5 separate regions of the Homo sapiens genome follow, and regions 2, 3, 4 and 5 are each linked to region 1. The links come from fine-mapping of genetic effects on gene expression. A gene starts in region 1. Each other region holds a variant in brackets. All regions are shown on one strand. Distances are between the middles of the regions. Region 1 holds the start of MAD1L1 (mitotic arrest deficient 1 like 1). Region 2 overlaps MAD1L1 (mitotic arrest deficient 1 like 1). Region 3 overlaps MAD1L1 (mitotic arrest deficient 1 like 1). Region 4 overlaps MAD1L1 (mitotic arrest deficient 1 like 1). Region 5 overlaps MAD1L1 (mitotic arrest deficient 1 like 1).

What was found.
Region 2: its variant is fine-mapped to the expression of MAD1L1 in whole blood (TOPMed, PIP 0.90).
Region 3: its variant is fine-mapped to the expression of MAD1L1 in whole blood (INTERVAL, PIP 0.92).
Region 4: its variant is fine-mapped to the expression of MAD1L1 in whole blood (TOPMed, PIP 0.93).
Region 5: its variant is fine-mapped to the expression of MAD1L1 in whole blood (TOPMed, PIP 0.96).

Annotation. Positions count from the first base shown.
Region 1 is chr7:2,230,780-2,235,779 of GRCh38, forward strand. MAD1L1 (mitotic arrest deficient 1 like 1) reads right to left here and starts at 2,166. Exons shown (of 19, transcript NM_001013836.2): 1 at 2,093-2,166. It overlaps MRM2 (mitochondrial rRNA methyltransferase 2), which reads right to left. Exons shown (of 3, transcript NM_013393.3): 3 at 3,416-4,785. The coding sequence ends at 4,343. RefSeq lists silencers at 1,665-2,084, 2,062-2,440 and enhancers at 2,075-2,369, 2,155-2,284, 3,019-3,551.
Region 2 is chr7:1,889,691-1,894,690 of GRCh38, forward strand. All of the region lies in intron 18 of MAD1L1 (mitotic arrest deficient 1 like 1), which reads right to left. Among named protein-coding and RNA genes, the nearest start is that of MIR4655, 48 kb to the left of the region's middle. RefSeq lists enhancers at 684-1,184, 1,185-1,685. The variant C/A (reference allele first, on the strand shown) is at 3,048.
Region 3 is chr7:1,935,487-1,940,486 of GRCh38, forward strand. MAD1L1 (mitotic arrest deficient 1 like 1) reads right to left here. Exons shown (of 19, transcript NM_001013836.2): 17 at 1,201-1,411. Among named protein-coding and RNA genes, the nearest start is that of MIR4655, 94 kb to the left of the region's middle. RefSeq lists enhancers at 4,433-4,482, 4,479-5,000, 4,903-4,992. The variant G/C (reference allele first, on the strand shown) is at 2,733.
Region 4 is chr7:1,866,147-1,871,146 of GRCh38, forward strand. All of the region lies in intron 18 of MAD1L1 (mitotic arrest deficient 1 like 1), which reads right to left. Among named protein-coding and RNA genes, the nearest start is that of MIR4655, 24 kb to the left of the region's middle. The variant A/G (reference allele first, on the strand shown) is at 2,087.
Region 5 is chr7:1,908,573-1,913,572 of GRCh38, forward strand. All of the region lies in intron 17 of MAD1L1 (mitotic arrest deficient 1 like 1), which reads right to left. Among named protein-coding and RNA genes, the nearest start is that of MIR4655, 67 kb to the left of the region's middle. RefSeq lists enhancers at 3,065-3,565, 3,743-4,376, 4,377-5,000. The variant T/C (reference allele first, on the strand shown) is at 2,037.

The DNA of each region.
Region 1 (5,000 bases):
CACATTCGCCTTTTCTCTGTTTTTGTCCTCTCCAGGCCCCCAGGCTCTTAGATACTGCCCCTGACTCTGAGGATGGATCTTCAGCACCTGGTCCACTCAGACTCCCAAGCTCATCTCCTCTGGAAACACCCTCAACAGGCACACCCAAAACCAAAAATGATGCTTTCCCAGGTTTCTAGGAATTCCTGAATCCAGTCAGTTGATGCCTGAAACTACCTACCAGGAGCACTCACAGCAAAGTCTGGCCTCTTGCCCAGGCAGGGTGGTTCACGCCTCTAATCCCAGCACTTCGGGAGGCGGAGGCAGGTCCGGAGTTCAAGACCAGAATGGCCAACATGGCAAAACCCCACCTCTAATAAAATACAAAAACTAGCCGGGTGTGGTGGTGTGCGCCTGTAATCCCAGCTACTCAGGAGGCTGTGGCACAAGAATCGCTTGAAACTGGGAGGCAGAGGTTGCAGTGACCTGAGACCGCACCACTGCACTCCAGCCTGGGTAACGGGGTGAGACAGTGTCTCAAAATAAATAAATGAATGAATAAATAAATAAATAAACATAAGCCAGGCACTGTTGCTCATGCCTGTAATCCCAGCACTTTGTGAGGCCAAGATGGGCAGATCACCACAGGTCAGGAGTTCGAGACCAGCCTGGCCAACATGGTGAAACCCCATCTCTACTAAAGCCAGATGTGGTGGCGTGCACCTGTAATCCCAGCTACTCCGGAGGCTGGGACAGGAGATTTTCTTGAACCCAGGAGATGGAGGTTGCAGTGAACTGAGATCGCGCCACTGCATTCCAGCCTGGGTGCCAGAGCAAGACTCCGTTTCAAAAAATAATAATAATTAATTAAAAAAAAAATCTGGCCTCTGGGAATCAGAAACGAGGCATGCAACAGTGACAGTAAAGATGATGATCATCACAGCTGTGCTCATTTTCATTGTTTATTTCTAGTGACATTAATAAGTACTACTACTATTTTCAACTAGGTATCAGAAAGAAAGGTATCTGACATTTCCGAGCACCGAGACTTCTTGAACTTCAGTTTCCTCATCTGTAAACTCATGACAGTGAAATCTACTTGCAAAGTTGTGGGGAACGGGGCCAATATCCCTCAAGTCTTCCACCGCTAGATGATGGGAATACGGCTGCAGGTTGACCAGCACTATATTTGTAAGCTCAGTCTCAACAGGGTGGTGAATTAGGTCTTTTTACACAGATTCTAGAGATGATGAAACCGAAGCTTCAAAAAGTTACAGAACGGAGATTGGAACTTGGGTCTGTCTGGCTTTGGAAGGCTGAAGACAAACCGCAGTAAAGAACTTTGCACCCCCAACACCGGCGCTTACTATGGGCTCATGGCAGGCCGGCCCACCAGCCACAACTAGGGAACAGCCAAGCGCGTTTAAAAGCCAAAGGTAGAACTTCTGCAGCTGCACAGTTTCTGAGTTTCCATTTAACAAGAACCTTGGCCTGGTGCAAGCAGAGGCCTGAGCTCCCCAGGCTGCCAGCCCCGCAGAGGCAGGCCCGCCTGGAAGGAGGCTCCACAGCCCAATTCCTCCATTGCCCAAACGAGATCAGGGTGGCCCTTGCCATCCCCGAGGGGAAACCGGGCCCACACGCCCCCTTCCTGAGAGCGGACCGGCGCGAGCCACCAGGATGCCAAGAGCCCCTGCAGCCCCGACTTCTCCACCAGGCGCCAGCTCAGGCCCCTTCCTCGGCGCGCCGGCACCCTAGCCCGGGGACCCACACGGTAGGCAGCGGGACCCCGGGGCTGGGACCACGAGCACGCGCCCCTCGGCCGCCCGCCCTGGCACAAGGGACGGCTGCGGAGACCCAGGCGAGGGGCCCGCTGTCCCCAGCACAGCCCAAAGGGGGAGTGGGGACAGGGGAGTGGGGAGAGGAGGGGAGAGCACAGAGAGGAGAGCGCGCCCATGGGAGACGGGGCGGGCGCGGGGTCCTGAGGCACGGGGTCTGGGTCGTTGTGCCCCACCCTGGCGAGCACACCCGGTCCGGGCCCTCGGCCCCTCCCTTGCCATTCCCGGGACCCCCGGGACCCCGGGACCCCGCCGCCCGCGCGAGCCGGGCCGCTTACCTCAGCCGCTCGCAGCCAGCTTGCCGCCGCCGCTCGGATCTCCCTCCGCTCCGCCGGCGCCCATTTATCGCGACACTTGCGCCTGCGCTCTCGCGAGACCTGCGTGGCAATCGGGCCGTAAAGAACCGAGTCTGCGCACCGGCTGATCCTGGGGACTCCGCGTCCGCACCCGGAGCCGCCACCCCTGGGAGACTCCGCACGGAAAGGACTCGGAACCGAAGGCTGAGCCAAGGCGCAGTCGGGGGCCCCCCGGCTTTGCGCAGGACGCGCTTCCACTAAGGCTTTCGCCTCGCGCCGTAATGTGTGGAATAGCCGCGCCCACGGCAGCCTCCTCGGACAAACTTGCACCGTTGACTCTTCCCAAAATTTTGCTACTCAGTATCAGCTTGAATCAATCCGTTATTTTGCTTTTTTCTGGGCCCACTAGAAATGCAATTTATGCTACTAGGCTACCTTCCCAGTGCTCTGCAAGCCAGGGCACAGCATCCAATGGGGTGAGGTCAGGCCCCACCATTATTATGGTAACCTTTGTCTATCCTTCAAATTGGAGCCTTCCTGAGAAGAGTGTGCCTTACTCGTTTCCATATTCTCTTCCTCTCCTCCTCCCGTCTCTGCCCAGCCCCTGGCTTCCCTCTAAGAAGATGCTGTTCCTAAGGGTCTGCAATGAATTTTCCTTCTTTCAGAGAAAGACTTCCAAGTTGTGTGCCCCGGGAATGAAATGGAATAAGAGAACGAGGTGGAGTAGGGCAAGAGTCCCTGGACTTAACAACCTGACTGCAACCAGAAATAAAATGAAAAGTCAAAACATCTGGCGGCCGGGCGCGGTGGCTCACGCCTGTAATCCCAGCACTTTGGGAGGCCGAGGCAGGCGGATCACGAGGTCAGGAGATCGAGACCATCCTGGCTAACACGGTGAAACCCCGTCTCTACTGAAAATACAAAAAAAAAAAAAAAAAATAGCCGGGCGTGGTGATGGGCGCCTGTAGTCCCAGCTACTCGGGAGGCTGAGGCCGAATGGCGTGAACCCGGGAAGTGGAGCTTACAGTGAGCCAAGATCACTTCACTGCACTCCAGCCTGGGTGACAGAGTGAGATTCTGTTTCTCAAAGAAAAAAAAAAATCAAAACATCTGACCCGCAGTTTCCTTCGGGGAGCTGGACAGAGCCCCAGATTCCTGATGGAGATTCCTGGGTTTCCAGACTTCCCCCACTGGTCCTTGGAATTTAATCATAGTCAACAAACTCTTCTTGAGGGATGAGTACACCTCCAGGAAATGGCTTTGAGGAAGCCAGTTTAAAAAAAACAAAACTTCAAAGCATGAAAGTACCTTAAAATAATGCAATCTCTATTATTTTATTAAATATAAAGCTGCGTCAAGTTCCTAGATGAGTAAAAGAAAATAAACACACCACATCACTGCTTGCTTTGGCAATTACATTTATGTTCTTGGGAGCCCAGACACTGATATAAATTTCCAGCAAAAACCAAAGCAGACCCACTGCCTGGATAAATTCAGACCATACGTCTTCCCTAATTGTTCCGGGAACTTTTGCTGCTTGAAGAATGCGTGAATTGCTATATTGTTCACCAGAAAGACAGAAGTTAATCCCCAGATGGAAATTTCAGATTTTTCTTTTGGTTTGCTTTTTGGTTTTTCATTTTTGTAGACATGGGGGGTGTTGCTATGTTGCCCAGGTTGGTCTTGAACTCCTGACTTCAAGCAATCCCCCAGCCTCAGCCTTCTAAAGCCCTGGGTTTACAGGCATGAGTGGCCTCACCCAGCCCCCAGATTTTCTACTTTAAACAGCCACACTAAGAACTGGAAATCTGTGCGTGGTGCTCTCAGAGCAGGGGTGGAAAGCCTGTTTGTGTGTGACAGTTTAACAGTCTATAAGATGAAGTCCCGTCAAGGCACACATGGGCACACCCATCCCTGCCTCGGCGGATTCCTTCTGATCCTTCCCACAGTCTGTTTTTCTCCATCCTTCCATCCTCACCTCTTTCTCTTGATAACTTTCTCTTCCCAAATCACAATATAGCGGACTTTTTCATTTTCCATGGCCCCTGAACTTAGTTTTGTCATCTCTTTTTGGTTAAAAAGAGAGAGAGAGAAAGAGAGAGAGAGACTCCCCACTTGTCCTGCTCCATCTCCAAAATCAGCTCAAATCTCCCAGGAACTCTTCAGGAGCTCAGGCTACGTTTCTAGCTTAAAAGGAGCTAATGACCATTATGAAAATGGCACAAGAAATCCTCACTGCTTCACAGTGCCCTTCCTTCCGTGGTACTGTGTGGCCAAGAAGTACACTTCTGATGACTCTTTCCTGCTGGCTTCAGGTTTGATGATCCTTACATTCTGGAATTCCTCTGTCAGTCTCCTCTGTAACCGACGGCTTTGACTTCCAGCCCAGGTTTTACAAAGGAATGTCCCCCCAGGTTGCAGGATGTCTGGGGTCACGCTGAGAAGGGTCAGGCACAGGCTGATGAGCCTGTCATGATCGAGGTCCCGGAACCCTGTGGCATTGGGCGCCATGTCGCTCAGAATCACATCTGCTCTCCTGCCAGGAAGCACCTCGAGGATTCTCTGTGAGGTTCTCGGGTCAGTCACGTCAGCAGGGCACAGAAAAGTTGCTCCTTCCAGGGGGAATATGTGAAGAAGATCTACCCCAAGCACGAAGCCAACAGGAGAGCTGGGATCTATGGAAGAAATGGTGAATGTGTTATTTATTTACACCCTGAATCTTTTTACAAAAATACAGTACATGCAACAAAGTGATGAAATAAAAATAAAATGTCAAGACCAAGGCAAAGAGCTAATGTGCAAATAGGTAAACACAGGCCTTCTCTATCTATACATCCTATAAAGACACATGGTGGAGATGGCGGGCCTTAACATCTGAGAAGCTGAGGCC
Region 2 (5,000 bases), 340 kb before region 1:
GGGCTGACTCATGCAGGACCTGGGCCACGTCCCCTCTGCAGGCCGGATGCTGCTGTCAGCTGAGCCTGCCATGTTTGTGGCTTGGCCCTTCCTCACCTTCTAAGCAAGCATGGTGGCTCCAGACCCAGCTAATTCCTTCCCCTCACCCCACCCAGGCAGAGGCCCAGCCACCCATGAGACTCCAAAGCTCAGAGCTGGGGGGCCTGCTGCCACAGCTCGTCAGGGGCCACAGCAACAGCTGGGCTCTGGGCCCCAGGCTGGTGGTGCCCTGAAGGCTGCCCACCCACAGGGCTGTGAAGGCAGCTGGGAGGTGGAGCTGCCTCCACTCTCAAGACACACAGGACCTGGGCCTTCCTGGCCCCTCTCTATGGCAAGAATGGGGAATCATCTCCTGGGAGGGGCATGTATCCGTGGGAGGGTCTCACTCCTGGACCACACGCTCTGTCTGGTGTGGGTATGGTGGGCTCGGATCCCCGGGAGGGTCTCACCCCAGGACCACGTGTTCTGGTGTGGGTACTGTTGGTACGTCCCTGACAAGTCTCATATTGAAATGGGATCCCCAATGTTGGAAGTGTGGCCTATGGGGAGGAGGTGTCTGCGTCATGGGGTCACAGGCCTCACCCACAGCCTGGTACTGCCTTTGAGGGAATTAGTGAGGTCTCTCTCTGTTTCCATGAGAGCTGGTTGTTAGAAGGAGCCTGGCACCCCACCCCTTTGGCCTCCTGCCATGTGATCTCTGCCCAAGTGGGCGGTTCCTCTTCATCTCCCGCCATGAGTGGACGCAGCCTGAGACCCTCACCAGGTGCACACGTGCCCACTTTTGAACTTAGCAGCCACCAGAATTGTGAGCCAAATACACTCCTTTTTCTCTAGAAACCACCCAGTCTCAGATATTCCTTTATAGCAACATAACAGGCAAAGACACCAGGCAAGCCCATCCTGCCAGTTTCCACGGAGGCCCAGGCTGTGCCGGCCACTACAGGTATGTCGGGGAGAGGAGGAGGGAGCCCCGAAACCAAGGCCACCTGTGCTGTTTTATCAGCTCTCCATCGCTCAGCACCTGAGAAGGGGTGCTCACGGGCCCCACTTTGTCCTTGGGGAGCTGAGGCCAGAAGTCATTTCCCAGGGCCAACCTGCTGTGGTAGAGGAGTCTGGACCCTGTCTGACGCCCATGTTCTCATTTTTCCTGGGGAGGTGCACAGCCTTCCTGTCTGGGATTTCCACAGTCCATGCAACAGTGAGAATGCGGGACCCCAGCAAGATCAGACAGACGCCAGCAGCGGGCTCTGTGCGGGACCTCGGCGGGATCAGACAGACGCCAGAAAGCGGGCTCTGCGCCACCTCCCCTTCCCCTGCTGAGGTCCGGCAGGGGCAGCAAGGATGGGCAGAGGGGAAAAAAGGGTGCACAGAAGCGACACCCCGGGCCAGCACAAGGACGAGGGGTGCGGGGCTATTTCTTCTTCCCAGGAAGGCTGCTATACAAAAACATTTTTCTATAGCTGTAGGATGTGCTTGTGCTTTAAGCTAAGTGTTATACAAAACAAATTTTAATAGGCTGGGTGCGGTGGCTCACGCCTGTAATCCCAGCACTTTAGGAGGCCGAGGAGGGAGGATCACCAGGTCAGGAGATTGAGACCATCCTGGCCAACATGGTGAAACCCCGTCTCTACTAAAAGTACAAAAAAATTAGCTGGGTGTGGTGGCGCACCCCTGTAATGCCAGGTACTCAGGAGGCTGAGGGAGGAGAATCGCTTGAACCAGGGAGGCAGAGGTTGCAGTGAGCCGAAATCGCGCCACTGCACTCCAGCCTGGTGACAGAACAAGACTCTGTCTCAAATAAATAAATAAAATTAAAAAGTTTATAAACTCAAAAAGTTACAACAAACTTTATTCTTATTATTATTAGAGATGGGATCTCACTCTGTCACCCAGGCTAGAGTGCGGTGGCGCGATCATAGTTTTCACCGCAGCCTCTAACTCCTGGGGCTCAAGTAATTCTCCCGCCTCAGCCTCTGGAGTAGCTGGGACGATAAGCAGGCGCCACCACGCCTGGCTAAGTTTTAAATATTTTGTAGACACAGGGTCTTGCTATGTTGCCAAGGCTGGTTTTGAACTCCTGGGCTCAAGCGATCCCCCCACTTCAGCCTCCCCAAATGTTAGGATTATAGGCACAGGCCACTGTGCCCAGCCATTCATTTATTATTGAAGAAAAGAACAGTATTTTTAATAGTTGAGTGTAGCCTAAGTGGTACGGCATTTATAGTCTCCAGTTGTGCACACTCATGTCCTAGGCCTTCACACTCACTCACCCTCATTCACCAGCTCGCCCAGAGCACCCGCCAGCCCTGCGAGCTCCGTTCACGGTGAGCACCCTACGCAGGTGCACCGTCTTCCACCCTTCATACATCATGTTTATGGCACCTTTTCCATATTTAAACACGTACAGACACGCAGATGCTTAGCACTGCGCCACGGTGGTCTACTGCATTCAGCACAGTCACGCACTGCACACTTTTGCAGCTTGGCAGCAGCCGGCTAAACCATGCGGCCCAAGGGTGCGGGAGGCTGCACGGCCCAGGCTCGTACAAGTCATTCTAGGAAGTTCCCGCAAAGACAACACTGCCCACCAGCACGTTCCTCAGCATGCATCCCTGTCATCTGGCAAAGCGAGACCGTACTAGACTTACACATATACACACAGGTGAGTGCTGAGTATCCCTTATTGGAAACGCTTGGGACCAAGTGTCTGGGATTTCCAGATTTTCAGGTTGTCAGAATATCTGTATTACGTGCTTACTGGTTGAGTAAGCATCTCATGCAAATATTCATCCCTAATCTGAAAATCTGGTATCGGAAACGCTCCATTAAGCATTTCCTTTGAGTGACAGACCCACAATAAAAAAAGCTGTGGATTTTGGAACATTCCCGACTTCAGGTTTTCGAATCGGGGAGGCTGGACCTGTATACCTTTCCCCCTCATCCATATGACAAACCCGGTAGGTCGACATCGCCACATGTTTGTGCAGTTCCGGAATCTGTGCCGTCCA[C/A]GCCTCTGGCCCTGACGCCCACCCTGCAGGCCTCTGAGCCGGGGAAGGCCCTGGACAGCAAGGAATGAGGAGCCTGCTGGAACCAGTGTGTCTCCCAGATCCCAGAAGCTCACGGTTTTGCCCCAAACTGCATTTGCTCTGTGTCCCCGGCCTGGTCACTCCACTTCTTCTTACCACTGATTTTCTCCCTCTCGTAACAGAAGGCTTCCTTCCCTGGGTTTTGAGAAGAGGGGAAAAGGGAGGTGGGGAAAATTCCGTGAGAACCACTGGGAGGAGTGCAGCCGGGATGGAGAGACCAGGAGCTGAGCCTCCCCGCTCCAGGCCCAGGCAGAGTATGGCCTTCCCAGGAAGCTCTAGGGACTCTGGAATCTCTATCCCCTCTCAGGAGGGAGAGGAGCAGAGGCAGCAGGTTCCCGCTGGGAAGAGCTGGAGCTGAGATTTGCCTGCCTTTCCCCCAAACGGCAGCCCAGGCAGCCAGCTCCCTCCACCCACGCGGCAACAAGAGGTTTGGTCCCGGCTGGGATGGGAAGTCCTGGCTGGGATGGGAAGTCCTGGCTGGGATGGGAAGCAGAGTGGCGGGGGACTGTGCGGCAAACCCTCAATTATCCCAGCACACATCTGTGGAACCCGCTTGACTGGAAACGGCTTCGGCTATTTCTAACTCTGTCTGCAGCCCCCTTTCTGCCTGAAGAATCATTTGGGGGAAAATCTGATAAAATAAATGACATGGCCAGGAGGCTGGGGTTTGGCGAGATCTTTCAGGAGCACGGGAGCCACGTATGCCAGCCCCCAGGTGGAGTGGGTGGGGCAGGGGGCCTGTCTCCCTGCTCTCCCTGCCCTCCCACACTGGCCTCTGCCCTCCGTGGCCCTATCTCAGGAGGGTAGCTCAGGGAAGACCCTCCTGGGCACACCTAGTGATGCTCAGCCCCCTGAGGATGCCTTTCTGAAGCCAGGAGGCCAGGGTCAGGGCCCCCAGGGAGCACCCAGACCACATTCCTCATGACAGATGGGGAAACTGAGTCTCACAGGAGTGCAGTGGCCTGGCCAAGGCTGCACACCAGGGTCAGGAGCTGCCCGGGACAAGGTGACTCCACAGTGTCTCTTATCTCTCCTCTGGACAGTGGAGACCAGGGCCACCGCTGCATGGCCCCAAGGAGTCAGTGACCATCTGCAGGCAGAGGTGCCAACATGAGCCCTGGCCCTACAGGTTGGCTGTTGTCTGTTCACTGTTTGTCTCTTCCCTTTTGCTCCACTGAAACCTGTTTTTCTGTCTGTCTGGCAGAGCCCTAGACTGCCCTCTCCATAAGCCAGGCCCTGAGCTGGGGGCGTGGAGCTGCTGCGAACAGTACAAGTGCCTCTCCTGTCACCAAGCTTGGTGTCCTGGATACAAAGGAGGCAGGAATGACAGGTGGATGGGGCAGGACTGATGCTGATCTCCTGGTCAGAGCTCCTGCCAGAAGACTTGGCAGCTCTAGCGCTGTCTTCTTGGAACCCAAGGGGGAGGATTTCTCAGGAGGCCAACGGCCTCACCCAGTGAAGGGCAGCTCGGAGGAGGACTTGGGAAGAGTCGGCTTACAGGGAGCCTTTGAAAGCTCCCTAAATGTTGCAGGCCCTCCAGAAGGTCTGCAGGGACCAGGACACACAGGGCCGGCAGAGCTAGTCACAGCTCTGGGAGAAGCACGGGTGCACCGTGGGCTGGAGCTGAACCAGCCAACAGGGATCCCGGTGCAACATGACCCCTCCCCAGCTCCACAGGTGGCACTTATGAGACTTGCCTCTTGCAGCCTCCGAAGTGAGCCACAGTTACTTCTACTCCACAGGTGAGGAGACTGAAACTTGGGGAGGTGAGGCTGCATGCCCAGTGTCAGCCCTCATGAACATGCTCTAAAGGCCCATATCCAGCAGGCGATCCCTCCACATCAACCAGATGGGGCGCAGGAAGGTCTGGGAGGC
Region 3 (5,000 bases), 300 kb before region 1:
CAGGGTGCGCCCAGACTCAGGGCAGTCTTGGCTTATGGGGGTGGGGCACAAGAGGGAGGGAAGACCCCACCTAAGACCCTCCCCACAAAGGAGCGGGGCAGAGGACAATCACTCCTGATACATCAGCCTGGGTGCTGGGCTGTGGGAAGCGGACAAGTCACCGCCACACAACCTCTGCACCTGCATGCTCACAGGGAATGCTCTCCCACAGTACAGGGCGCGATGGCAAGTAGGTGGGAAGAAACAGAAGAAGGTATCATCGGATGAAAGCTGAGTCTGAAATCACCTCGAGATGCCAAAGGCCAGAAAGCAGCAGCCTCCAGGCCCCACCACAGATGAGCCTGCAGACACCCCCAAGGGAGGGGGCTGGCAGCCGGGTGGCTCTAACACAGGAGCAAGGGGACGCCGGGCCACGCTCCAGGCTGCTGCTAAGGGCTGGACAGGGAACCCTCCCCCAGGTCCCCCCAGAACCAGGAGCGTGGGGCAGTGCCCAGCTCCCTCCAACAGCAGAGAGCAACACAGGGGGCAGGGGTCTCCTGAGCCCCACAGCCTCGCTGGGGGTGCAGACTGCACAGTGACTCTGGACTCCCAGCCCTGCTCCTTCAGGGGCACCCTGCAGAGTCGACACAGCCCCGGCAGCACCCTCCGAGGCTTGGCGTGGGCAGACCCCAGCACCACCTCCCCACATCAGGGGATAGGCTGGCGTTCCAAAGGCCGTGGGCCTCATGTAGACCTGGAGGGTGTGGGCAGGCCCTGCTGGCCCTCATGGAGGCCTCATTCTTCCCTGGGACGCCACAGGCCTTGGCCTCAAAGGGCTCTCTGGACGCCATGAAGCACACTTAAGCTGGTGAGAGATGGACTTGTTTTCGTGGAGGACTGGATTTACTTGTGATTAATGGGGTACATATAAACTGACAAATGATACGAATTAGTTTAAGGGCCTGAAATTTCAGCCCCTTGCTTCTCCACAGCTGCCTGCAGACTCGGATGGCTCCACCTGTTTGCACAACCCCACGGGGCCATGGGGACACGGGGCCAGGGTGCTCTGCCCCAGCAACCACCAGACCCGGCTGCCCACAGGGGAGGACAAACCCTCTGGGGATGACAGGCAGGGGCGCCTGAGGCTGCCCCAAAGGCGCACGGATGGACCTACCCACGGAAGGTCGAGGATGGCAGGGACCGGGGGTGGGGGGTGCCTACCTGCCACCTCCTTGGACGATGGCAGACTCGCGGCGGCAGCCTCAAGGTCGGCTGGGACGGTGCCTCCTCTCTCCATGGCGCGCAGGAGCCCGCGCAGTCGCTCGCACTCCGCCTGCAGCTGGCTGTGGTCCTCGCGCAGGCGCTGCCTGGCCACACTGGTGGGGTTCAGGCTCATGTGCAGCACTTTGGTCCTGCTCTGGTCATAGTCACCCTGCAGGAACACACACAGCACAGGTCACCATGGCCCAGGCACACACGCAGCACGGGTCACACACAGCATGGGTCACCATGGCCCAGGAAGACACACAGCACGGGTCACACACAGCACAGTGCTCAGTTCTTTTGTCTTCTTGAGCCTGCCTGGCAGCCATCTCTCCTGGAAGGAGTGGCTCCTTCCCTGTGCCCTGTGGACAGGTGCAGGAACAAGGCCTGGCCACCTGCTGGGTCCCTTCTGCCTAACCACAGGAACAGGGTGAGAGGGGACATGCGGCCTTTGCTCAGCCAAGTGCGGTGCTTCCCAGAATTCCACACTCAGTGCCCGGGAGGGAGGCTTCCTCTCCTCTGAGGTTCCTGGCTGGGATGAGACTGGGAGCCCGTGTGGCCATGTTCCCATCTCTTCCCTACCAGCCTGGAAGGTGCCCCGTGCCACAAGAGAAACAAGGTCAACCACACAGAGATGGAAGGCAAGGGAGCCTGGCATCAGCGTGGGTGGCTCAGGAATGCGCCTCGCAACCTGATGTTCCCACGAAACCCAGGGCCGGGATGTGTGTGGCATCCTTGAGGGAGGAGTGCGCCTGGAGGCCCAGCCTGCTGACCTGTGGTGGGTGACCGACCCCCAGCAACAAGCACCATGCAGCCCTGCAGCAGGGACAGCCCCCCACAGCAGGGGACAGCCGCCCACAGCAGGGAACAGCCGCCCACAGCAGGGGACAGCCGCCCCCAGCAGGGAGGTGCAGGGTCACTGCGCACCCGAGACCCCGACCTCACGCCACACACAAACATCAGCCGCCCACAGCAGGGAGGTGCAGGGTCACTGCGCACCCGAGACCCCGACCTCACGCCACACACAAACATCAGCCGCCCACAGCAGGGAGGTGCAGGGTCACTGCGCACCCGAGACCCCGACCTCACGCCACACACAAACATCAGCCGCCCACAGCAGGGAGGTGCAGGGTCACTGCGCACCCGAGACCCCGACCTCACGCCACACACAAACATCAGCCGCCCACAGCAGGGAGGTGCAGGGTCACTGCGCACCCGAGACCCCGACCTCACGCCACACACAAACATCAGCCGCCCACAGCAGGGAGGTGCAGGGTCACTGCGCACCCGAGACCCCGACCTCACGCCACACACAAACATCAGCCGCCCACGGCAGGGAGGTGCAGGGTCACTGCGCACCCGAGACCCCGACCTCACGCCACACACAAACATCAGCCGCCCACGGCAGGGAGGTGCAGGGTCACTGCGCACCCGAGACCCCGACCTCACGCCACACACAAACATCAGCCGCCCACGGCAGGGAGCTGCAG[G/C]GTTACTGCGCACCCGAGACCCCGACCTCACGCCACACACAAACAACAGCCGCCCACGGCAGGGAGGTGCAGGGTCACTGCACACCTGAGACCCCGACCTCACATCACACACAAACATCAATTCCACCACATTCTGTCTCCTGGGAGTAGACACAGGTTACTCAAACAGGGTTCAGGAAGTGCTGGCCGTAAAAGAAAAAAAAAAGAGTACAACTGACCTTATAGAAATTAAGAACTTCATCCACTGAAACAGTGGAAAGGCACCCACAGAGCAGGAGGTGCTGTTTGAAAATCACATTTCTGAGAAAGGGTTCAGATCCAGAACATACGAAGAAGTCAGAAATAACCAAGGGCATGTCAGAAATAACCAAGGGCATGTCAGAAATAACCAAGGGCATGTCAGACAACCCACTCTAAAAATCTGCAAAACATGTGAGCAGACACTTCCCAAAAAGACACCCAAAAAGCTGATAAACATATGAAAAGGTGCACACACATGGGCCAGGGCTGGGGCCAGAGGCGCGCACGCACACACACACACACACACACACGCACGCACACAGAGACCAGGACTGGGACCAGAGGCGCACACACACACACGGGCCAGGGCCGGGGCCAGAGGCACACACACACACACACACACACACACACACGGACACAGTCCAGGGCCGGGGCCAGAGGCGCGCACACACACACACACACACACACACATACAGGCCAGGACCGGGACCAGAGGCGCACACACACGGGCCAGGGCCGGGACCAGAGGCGCACACACACGCACACACACACACACACACACACATGGGCCAGGGCTGGGGCCAGAGGCACACACACACACACACGGGCCAGAGCCGGGACCAGAGGCGCGCACACACACACGGGCCAGGGCCAGAGGCGCGCACACACACACGGGCCAGGGCCGGGACCAGAGGCGCACACACACATACGGGCCAGGGCCAGGACCAGAGGCGCTCACACACACACACACACACACGGGCCAGGGCCAGAGGCACACACACACGGGCCAGGGCCGGGACCAGAGGCGCGCGCACACATGGGCCAGGGCCGGGGCCAGCGGTGCACGCACACACATACACACACACATACACACACACACAGGCCAGGGCTGGAGCCAGCGGCGCACACACACGCACACACACGGGCCAGGGCTCCCGCCAAGTGCTGAGATTCTGCAGCTTGTGGCTGTGAGCTGTGGGGCAGTGAGACTGGATGGGCACCCGGTCCCTCAGGCACAGACATGACCATGGTCATGACATGGGTCATGTCAGGCACAGACATGACCATGGTCATGACATGGGTCATGTCAGGCACAGACATGACCCAGCAAGCCAGGCCAGCACCACGCATAGCAATGGCCTCCTCCCCTTTGGCAATGAGTTCCTGCCACCCTTGGGGCTTCTGCCCACGCACTCTCCTATCTCCCAGAGGGGAACAGGGAAACACATCCTGTGTTCAGATCACCCCACGCTCTCAGGAGAGGCCGGTGTGGACACACCCCACGGGGTGAAGAGACCGGGCGCAGTAAGCCTCCAGCCTCCCAAGAGCTCAGGCTGCTGTGGGCCACTGCTCTCCAAGTCCCCGAAGGACGGCGAGGCCTGGCTTGGGCTGTACCCTGGGGACCTCACTTGGGCTGGAGCTCATCAGCCATGGGCAATCGTGGTCCCAGAGCCCAGAATGTGCCTCCAACAGGGAGAGAGGAGAGGATGGGGAAGAAGGGAAGAGACCTCACCCCTCCTGGTGCCACCCCGGACTCTAAGACATCCCCCTGACGTCACGTCACACAAGCTAACTGCTGGCCCTGCCACCCCCCTCATGGAAGAGGCCAGTGGAGATGGACATGCTGACCTGGACCAGGGACCTCCGGCCCCATGGCACGATGGCAGAGGCCGCCGCAGAGGGAAGCGGGGTTTGCAGACACGGCTCGCTTGGCCGCTCCCTCTGTGCTTCTCCTGGGAAGGAGGAGGGGAGGGGAAATCCACCCACTCAGGCCCAGGGGAGAGGGAGGCGGCAGCCCTGCCGCTGGGCCGGGGCAGGAGAGGATCCGCGCAGCTCTTCACAGGTTTTCTGAGAACCTTGTAAACCTCAGAGGATGAAGAGACATCTTGTAACTCTGGCTGAATCACAGACTCTTGGGGTTGAAAGGATTGCTACTTCATCCAGTTTTCACAGCCGGGGTTAAGATAACCCAGTATGCAGAATCCAGCCACCCACACGCACTCAGGAGACCCCTCTGACGGGCGGCAC
Region 4 (5,000 bases), 360 kb before region 1:
GGGCCAGAACGCCCGGGTGCACACTGGGAGCCAGGTGCCTGGGTTGGGAGTATAGGGCCTCAGTACATGCTGGAAGCCAGGTGCCCAGGTTGGTGGTGCAGAGCCCGGGTGCGCTCTGGGAGCCAGGTGCCCAGGTGGGAGGAGATAGACGCCTAGGCCCTTGCGCTGTGGGTCCCGACAGCCTCTGCCCTCCAAGACAAGGGTGGAGCCTTGCAGAGCCTGCTCCTGGAACCCTAACTGGTTCTGTAAAGCTCCCTGTGCCCCCACTGCAGGCTGAGGCCGTAACATGCTCCCAGGAACAAAGGGCTGAAGCAAGAGATGAGAGCGAGCTCCACCCTCCAGACGGTTCCAGTCTCTGGGGCAGAGACACGAGGGTGCACTGTGCTGAGGAGAGGTCTTAAGTGGGGAAGAGGAGGCTCAGGGAGCGCTACAGAGAAGCTGCTGGTGTGAGACGCCACGGGAGGCTGCGGACAGGCAGGCAACGCAGAGGCCATGGCACCTCTTGCCGGCCAGCCCCAGAGCAGTCCTGCTTGGCGGGAGCGTTGGGGGCAGGCAGGGGTGAAGGGCAGGGAACATCGTGAAAACCAACTAGATCTGTTCCACGGGCTGACGGGAGCCCTGAGGGCCTTCAGTGAGGGTGTACCATGACTGGGGAAGCAGCAGGAGGCAGCGACATAGGGCCCGGTGAGGGCCAAGGAGGAGAGATGGGCAGCTCAGCTGCCAGCGCTGGCTGGGCCAGGCTCCTGCAGGCGTCTCACTGTGCTGGCCTGCTCTCCATGCCCACAGCGGTCCTCCTGCAGTAGGGATGGGGAGGTGCAGCTCGGAGGTAGGGGAGGTAGTGGGCAGCACTCACTACAGGGCCCGCTGGGCTCCTGACCGCAGAGTGGGTCACCACAGCAGCACCTGCTGGCCCAGTGGGTGAGGGGCTGAGGTCGGCTGCAGTACTTGGAGATCTAGGGCCAAGCTGGGGCGAAGTGGGAGACAGAGGCAGGCAGAAGCTGGTGAGATGGATGGCACGGTCAGTGCCACAGACATGGGCACCGTAGGCCTCCCCTGGCATCACTGACCACATGCCAGGGACACACATGAAGCTCATGCCCAGCCCAAGCTCCAGAGGCCTTCGGGGCTAATGGAGGAGGGGAATGCCGGGACAAGGAAGTGTGGGACAAGGAAGAGGTGCTGGCTGCCTCCGCAGGACCCCCCCGGAAGATGTAGAGGAGAGAAGCGGGTCCAGCATGGAAGGCGGCACTGCAGCCTGAGCTCCAGGTCTGGATGAGGCGGTGGCAGCAGCTTCCTCTGGGGGCCGCAGGAATTGGGACAGATCTGGCCCTTCTGCTCGCCCAATCTTCTGCAGAGTGCAAAGCGGGCCATGCATCCCACTGCAGGTGTGCAGTGAGTAGGAGCGAGGTGGGCCATGGGGCGCGGAGGCTTCTGCACATCTCAGCAGCACTCTGCCAGATTCTACCGGTGGCTCGGGCCCAATTTCCATTCCAGGAACCTGCGCCTGAGGCCTCCTGCAGGCAGGGAGAAGGGCCACGCTTCCTGGCCTCCGGGGCAGAGCTCCTGCAGGGTGGCTGTAGGGGATGGGAGGGGTGGCACAGGGAGGTGACACAGTCCCTCATTGGAGGGACTGGACGGGCTGAGCACTGGCCCCTGCCATCAGCTCTGGGACAATAATTGGAGCTGAAGTTGTTCCAACGACTTATTAAAAATAAATGGCGATGCATCGGAGGCAGTCCCTGCCCAGATGAGAGCCACATAATTAGAGCAGTGTCTGTGCTCGCTTCTCCCGTCTTCCCTAATACGGGGCGACAACCGTCTCTGAGGGGCCCTCCACATCTGTCCTCTGTGTGGCCAGTGCCCTGCCCTGCCCCACATGGCGCTGAGCAGACGCCAGCAGTAATTCCCCTACTGACCTCTGTAAGCACTGTCCCTGCCGTGCCCGCTCAGAGTGGGCCCTCCTGCACCCTGCCATTCAGCCCAGCGAGGTGCACTGTGGCCCCCCAGACACCAGCACTCCTGACCCCACAGTGGCCCCTGGGGTGGACAATTTGGCCAAGATAACCTTGAGGCAGAACAGGGAGCC[A/G]AGCCCCACCTGCTGATAACCGAAATCAGTTAGAACTTTCTGGATTTTTAAGGAATTGGCTCTGAGATTTCAAGTCACTGCCTCCCCAGCTCCTGGGTACTGTGGAGGCAGCGTGGACTTCCATGGCTGCTGCCGCCCAGCACACACCACGCTTCCCGGGCTGCTCCCACGCAGGCCGCGCCTCCCGGGCTGCGTGCTGCTGGAGTGGGGCCCTCCATGTCTGTCCTCCCCAGCGAGGCCTCCCACCCACCCCACCCCACGGATAATTTACACAAAGAAAGTACAGGCTCAGCAGGGGGTGGGGAAGGGAGCTCCTGGAGGTCCCTCCAGGGATGGAGCATCATCCTGGGGTCCTGGGATTAGGCTTGGATTTCTCCAGCGCGTCATGCGATACCCTTGCGGCCTGCCTGGAAGTCAGCACAGCCCATGCCGGGTAGGAGTGACACGCACTGCGTGTTCACAGCCTTAACCAGAGGCGAGAGTTCTCACAGTTGGGGATGCGGCTCAGCACCAAGGGGCCAACAGGACGCAGTGACGACCACCAGGGGAACGCCCAGAAGACCAGCATGTCAGCTAAGGAGCTGAAGGTGTGACCTCCCCACACAGGGGCCCAGCGGTGCAAGCCCTGGCACACCAACCCTCTGCATGGAGAACCTGGCCTCTTCCCCACACGGACGAAGCTGAGCACGGAAGCGCCGCCTCACCGCGCCAGGCAGAAAGCTAGCCCGGCACAGCCCAAACCCTCGCGTGTGTAGGACTCCCCCAAGGCTCTGTGAAAGGCAGGCTCTGGCTCGGCAGGCTGGGGTGGGGCCCGAATGGCACCGACGCAACTGGTCCAGGCCACACGTGGACGGTGAGGCCCGGGACGGGAACATCCGAGCAACGATCCATGCCCAGGCACCATCGCCCGCCCCCATGGCTGCCGGCATGGGGCGGGGTTGGGTCTCAAGGAGAAGGCACACACGCTGCTGTGGGGGCCACAGAGGCCCGGGGGAACGCCAGGGAAGGAGCAGTCAGCCCACGTGGAGAGCACCCCTTGCCTGGGACCCCCTCCCACAGCCTCTCCCAGAGGCCTCTCTGAGTTCCCAGCATCTACCTCGGCGCAGGCTCTTAGCTCTCCCTGAACTCCACCTTATAGGCTCTCAAGGGCAAGAACCAAGTCCAGGTTCCTAAACTCCCCAGGTTTCCTTAAATCCCCAGCCCAGGGTTGGGCACAGCGATGGCCTGCAAGAGCTCAGCCCACGTGCAGCTGGGAGCAGGTGACCTCCCCAGGGCCCTCTTCCCAGCGCCTTTGCTGCCTCCCCTTCTCTCCAACCTCAGTATCACAGGGACCCGGGAAAAAACACTGAAAAACGTGACAAAACGGAACATAACCATGTTCCAGCCTGGCTGTGCCATCCATCTCCAGCTGCCGAAGGGTAATTTAATTAGCCTGCGTCGGTAATGAGCTACGATTGTCAATCAGCACTGTCACACTAGCACGGGTTGAGGGGGCCGAGGACCACAGCCTCATGGAGATCACGTGCGTGGGCTCCATGGAACACATCACGACTGTCCCTGCAGGAGGTGATGCCACACCACACCTAGACTGGGCTCCCGCAAGTGCCTCCATGGGGCAGGCAGGTTCAGGTCCAGCTGCTGACGGAGGACCCAGGCTCGTCCCACAAGGCAGGCTGTGAGCCCAGGAAGCAACGGGGTCCAACAGGCGGCTGGCTGGAGCACTTCATAAGCCAAGGGGTGCCTCGCCCGTGCCTCCCCTGCCCCTGCCGTGCCAACCCGGAGTCCACATTGGTAGGTGAGGTGTGGGAGGCCCAGACACGGCAGAACAAGCCTGACCTTGAACCGAGACAGGGAGAGTGACTGACCCCAGATGCGAGCCGCTGCCCAGAACTGTCGGCAGGAAGGCTGTGCAGGTGGCAGCTCACGATGTGTCACATCCGGCCTAGTTGGTGCCCAACATATGCCTGCCATGCTGAACCCAACATATGCCTGCCACGCTGAACCGACCATAACACCTGCCACGCTGAACCCAACATATGCCTGCCACGCTGAACCGACCGTAACACCTGCCACGCTGAACCTAACATACGCCTGCCACGGTGAACCTACCGTAACACCTGCCATGCTGAACCCAACATACGCTTGCCATGCTGAACCCACCATAACACCTGCCACGCTGAACCCAACATACTCCTGCCACGCTGAACCCACCGTAACACCTGCCACGCTGAACCCAACATATGCCTGCCACGCTGAACCCAACATACACCTGCCACACTGAACCCAACATAAGCCTGCCACGCTGAACCGACCATAACACCTGCCACGCTGAACCCAACATACGCCTGCCACGCTGAACCCACCGTAACACCTGCCACGCTGAACCCAACATATGCCTGCCACGCTGAACCCAACATATGCCTGCCACGCTGAACCCACCGTAACACCTGCCACACTGAACCCAACATACACCTGCCACACTGAACCCACCGTAACACCTGCCACGCTGAACCCAACATATGCCTGCCACGCTGAACCGACCATAACACCTGCCACGCTGAACCCAACATATGCCTGCCACGCTGAACCGACCATAACACCTGCCACGCTGAACCGACCATAACACCTGCCACGCTGAACCTAACATACGCCTGCCACGATGAACCTACCGTAACACCTGCCACGCTGAACCCAACATACGCCTGCCATGCTGAACCCACCGTAACACCTGCCACGCTGAACCCAACATACGCCTGCCATGCCGAACCAACCGTAACACCTGCCACGCTGAACCTAACATACGCCTGCCACGTTGAACCTACCGTAACACCTGCCATGCTGAACCCAACATACACCTGCCACGCTGAACCCACCGTAACACCTGCCACACTGAACCCAACATACGCCTGCCACG
Region 5 (5,000 bases), 320 kb before region 1:
TATGTTGCCCAGGCTGTTGTTGACCTGCGGGCCTCATGTGTGCCTCCCACAGTGTTGGGATGACGGGTGTGAGCCCCGCACCCGGCCTCTCTTTCAGTGCTGAAGGCATCGCCCTCAGGTCTCAAGTGCTCAGCACTGCTGTGGAGAAGCCTGAATCCGTTCTGACTTCTGGTCTTCTACAAGTGACTGGTTCTCACTCCCCGGAAGTAGCAGAGCCGTGTCTCTGTTCTCAACATTATGAAACTCCCCCAGCATGCATTTCTCTCATGACCCCCACCACACGGCCTGGCTCCCCCAAGTGTCTATTTCCCACCTCTCGTTAGATGTCTCCCTGGCGGCGGCTGGGCGCCTGGCATGAGCAGCGGCCCCAGGGGGTCCTGCTGGACTGTTTCTGGGAGGCTGCCAGCATTGGCATCTCCAGATCTTCCCTCTAGGATGGGTCTGATGGGTCAGAGATGACTCTCAGATGCTCAGTGCCAGTGGGAACACAGGGCAGGAGGGAACGTGCCCAGACTCGGAGCAGCGGGACCAGCCTCTGAAGGAGCCCGACACCGGCGTGGTGTACTAGTAGGTGACGCAGAGGCCTCCACATCAGGCCGAGGTCTGACCTCGACGAGAGACGACCAAGGATCCCCTGCACGCTGCGGACACAGGAAGCCAGTGGAGGCCCAGGGCTGGGGGAGCCGCCCGAGTGTCCCTGCAGAGAGTACTCTGGGCCCTGGCAGGCACTGGCAGCCCCGGTCCTGCCCAGGCCCAATGCCGAGCCAGGCTTCCCGGGACTGAATTATTCATGTTTTGCAAGCTTCTAAACTATTTCAGTTTTACATTTTTAAATATTTAATAATTAGGCATCAAATATTGATGCAATTTTATTAGCAGCCATGGGCATGGGGCATTGCAGTGGTTATGGCTGTGCGATTTGTATCCGGGTCCTGGCTGGCTCTGCAAGAGACTGTAGGAGGTGGGGACGCACCTGTAGGCTGGCCGGGACCCCCCGGGATGTCACCCGTGAGAACCGTACCCCAGCATGCCCCACAGCGCCCCACCTGGCTCATCCCAGGGGCTGCCGGCCCCAAATCCAAATTCCCGGAGACCAGCCCGAGGGGCTGGCAGGCATCATGGTCCCCAGGAACTGGCTTTGGCAACAGGAGGATGGGACGCCACCACCTGCCAGCCAGGGCCTGCTGCTGCCCCAAGAAGATGGTCGCTTCAACTCTGCTGGTACCAGACGGCCCTTGAGACACGGCCTCCATGATGAGCCATGAGTTCCCCTGCTGGGCAGAAACTGCACACTCTGCTCCAGTGAGAAGACACTCGCCCTGGAATTACACACGGAGGAGCCGCTCCCTGGCCCACCACCTGGCAGGCGCTGGCTGGGTGAGCTCTGTGCAGCTTTCAAACAGGGCACCTCTTGTGTGATTAACGACTTACTCCAGCAAGCAGCTTGTCACCTTGCACAAAACTGATATGAAAAGACACCAGCAATTACAGCCACCAGATTACGGGGTGGGAGAGTCCTGGGGTGACAGGCGGGCGCGGATATCATATTTGGAGAAGAATCCTCCCCCAGCACCGAGAACACAGCAGCTGAACCCCAAGGGACAGCCCCCTCCCCCGGCACCAGGCTCCACAGCCCCCATGGGGTCCTTCGGCAGCAGAGGCCCAGCGGAACCTTGGCGGAAGGAGGGACATTGGCCCCCGTGTCAGTGATCCTCCGGACACCCTGCATATGTGGGGGGACGTGGCACCTGCTGAATGGACAGAAAGATGCCTGCAGGAGGCCAGAATCCAGCTCCACGGTCTCTGGCCAGCAACAGGACTACAGGGAGGGCTGGTCGCAGCAGCCGTCCGACGCGTCAGCACAGGGCCACCTCTGCGATGCCAGCACTGTTGAGGGGACCCCTTGAACACCCGCCGCGGAGCCAAAGCTGGAGCCCACGCTGGGCACTGCCCTGGGGGCTGAGCAGCTGTCTCCATTGGTCATTCAGGCTTCAGTTCAGAAAAGCCTCCCTGGGCCACCCCCACCAGTGGTCTTC[T/C]GGGCACCCCACATTTGCTTTCTCCCTAGAGCTCACGAGCATCTGAGATCGCGTGTTTGCCCGTGTCCTGGCCTCTCTTCCACCTGGAACACGTTCGTCAGGTGAGAGCCTGCTCGGGCTTTGAGTAGGTGCCTGTCCGGGGCAGGAACACGCAGCCTCGCTGCACCCATCCCAGCCGGGCCCCGCCCTGGGGAGCATGGCTACGTTTGTCCCCACCTTCTGGATGGGGAAACCGACGATGAGAAAGCAGGGAGAGGGCTCCCTGTGACGCCAGTCAGGCGGGACATGGGCTCCAGCATGGCGATGTGGGGCCACAGTGTCTCTCTCCTGACCCCCAACCCTGCACCCATCCCGTGACCGGAGGCCCTGGCGGGGCCTGGTCTGGGCGCATCAGTCCTTTCAAGTGGCCTCAGCTGCCTGTGCCCACAGCCCTGATTAGCCGTGAGGATTCATAACTGCAGGCGTGCCTCATGTCTAAGTGCTACTCCCACAGTTCCCGCTCCTGGGCGGCCGCCTCTCCCTCCATCCCCCGCACCCCTTGAGCCAGACAACTTGAGTTGCCTTCGGCCTTCCTGGATTCAGCACTCAACACCCGCTGGACACCAGGTTTCAACGCTCTGTCCTCACCAACCCTCCCTGGCACCACCTCTGCTCGGGGTCTTTCTTTACTAGAGTCCAAATTCTACTTCCTGTCACCCTCCTCTCCCTCCTCCTCAGGCCCCAGGGGTCTTTCTTTTGACGCAGAGCCCAGCTTCGGAAGGGGAGCACTGCCCCCGGCGCAGTCACTTGCAGAGTCAGAGCCCAGCTTCGGAAGGGAAGCGCCATTGCCCAGCACAGTCACTCGTGTGCAGCCCAGGTGTTCTGTCCTCTGCCGCTACAAGTCCACAGTCCTCCCAGACACCCCAGGCACACTCAGAACGCATGGTGCTCATTTCTGCTGCCACAATGTGGCGGGCACATTTGCCTTCTGCCAGGGGACGATGTTCACCAGCGAACTTCTGCAAGGCCAGACTCCGGCGTCACCTCCAGATGAGGCCCCTCTTGGGCATCCCAACCCTCTCCAGTCCGGCGTCACCTCCAGAACAGGCCCCTCTTGGGCATCCCAACCGTCTCCAGTCTGGCGTCACCTCCAGATGAGGCCCCTCTTGGGCATCCCAACCCTCTCCAGTCCGGCGTCACCTCCAGATGAAGCCCCTCTTGGGCATCCTATCCCTCTCCCCTGGACTGGGTCTGAACCTCTGCGGCACACACACGCCTTTCCAGCTGCGGCCACCTTTGCAGGGCTGCTTCCCTCACTGTGTGAGCTGCCTGAAGGCAGGGGCTGGGCCTCACCTGTCCAACCCGCCCTCCATGCAGCTGCAGGGCAGAAGTGGTGGGAGTGGGCTGGGTTCCACATCCCCTCAGACACTTGTCGGGGGTCTGGGGGCTGACGGGAACCATGGCCAAACCCAGAAGTCTGCAGGAGTACACATAGCTGTCGGGATAGTTTCCTTCTGACCCAAAATCCTGAAGTGGGGGAAACTGGGGTGGCAGGGGTCCAGATGGCGGCAGGGGCCCTGCGTGCGGGTACAGACCCCAGAACCAGCCAGCTCCGTGTGTGTCAGCAGTGGAAACCGCAAGGCCAGCCCTGTCGACTGGATGAAGGATGGCCATCTGAGAGACAGACAGCAAATGGGGGCATGTGTGGCTCAAAAGGAAAACTTAACCTATCCTTTTGGGGAACATGAGCTGAGAAACTCTGGTAAAAGGAAGCAGTTGGGGTCAGAGGTGACTCCTCCTGTTTGGGTGAGGTGAGGCAGGCGGCAGGTGTGGGCACCAGGAGAGATAAGAATGGGTGGCCACTGCAGAGACTGCAGGCCCTGCACGGAGATGCCAGCCCACAGAGGGCAAGGGGTGCCCATCCTCTCACGGCTCCTCCTGGCACAGGCAGGGCTGCGGTCCCTGCCGCCGATGCATCAGAGCCACCGGGACCCTGTGCTCCCCATCCCTGCACCAGTGGGGGAACGGTCCTCAGAGCACTCCCCTCTCATCCCACCAGCTCCAGGCAGACCCAGCCTCACAGGCCCACAGCCAGGGCCCCTGTGCAGGCAGGGAGCCCACCGCGCACGCACCTCCCAGAGCCAGAAACACTCCAGAGGGAGCAGTGCCCCACAGCGATATCACAGCCGAGTCAAGACGTGACCACAGAACACGGCCACCTCATCTGTTTCCGGAAGCTTCCCTCCAGGAACATGCCCAGCAGCTGGTCCGTGGAGAGAGGCCTGGGGTGGCGGCGGCGAGGTCCTGGGAGACGTGGGGGCGGGGCTGTGTGGGCTCCGGCCGCTTTGCATGCCGCGTTCATGATTAATTTCCCACCGAGGCTTGCAGAACCTCAGCTCCCCGGCAGGCGAGCCCCCTCTGAGAAGAGGGAAGCCTTTCCAGAGCTCATCTTTTATTGACTGGGTCATTTTCGAGTCAATCTGTCTGCTTTCGGCAAGACGAGAGTTTTAAATCTCCTGTCTCTTTTCCCCTTTTGGAGATGTGGCAGTCTATGAAAACCTGCTAATGTAGGCAGCGAGGCCTCGGATTCCTATGTAATGAACTCTTCAGATAGCAGGAGACTCGGGAAGAGGACACGGAACTGCTCCAGTAATTGGAGCAGCCAGACACAGGGCTCTGGAAGGAGAGGGGCAAGGAGCAGGGTTCTGGGCGGGGTGGGTGCAGGGAGGACCCCTGAGTGCTGAGGAGCACTCCACCCGGAGGAAGCGGCCTGGGGTGGCGTGGGGTGGGGGATCCATCAGGGCAGACGGGCTCTGCATGAGGAGGAATCCGCGCGTGCACGCCCGGCCTGGAGAAGGGAACCGTCGGGGGAGGCTCTCTGAGGCCAAAGGCTTTACCTTCTGGGAGCTGTAGCGGCAGCCAGGCCCCTTGCTCCCCCAGGTCCTGGAGATGGCCCTGGCGTCCTGGGGGTTGGCGTGGGGTCAG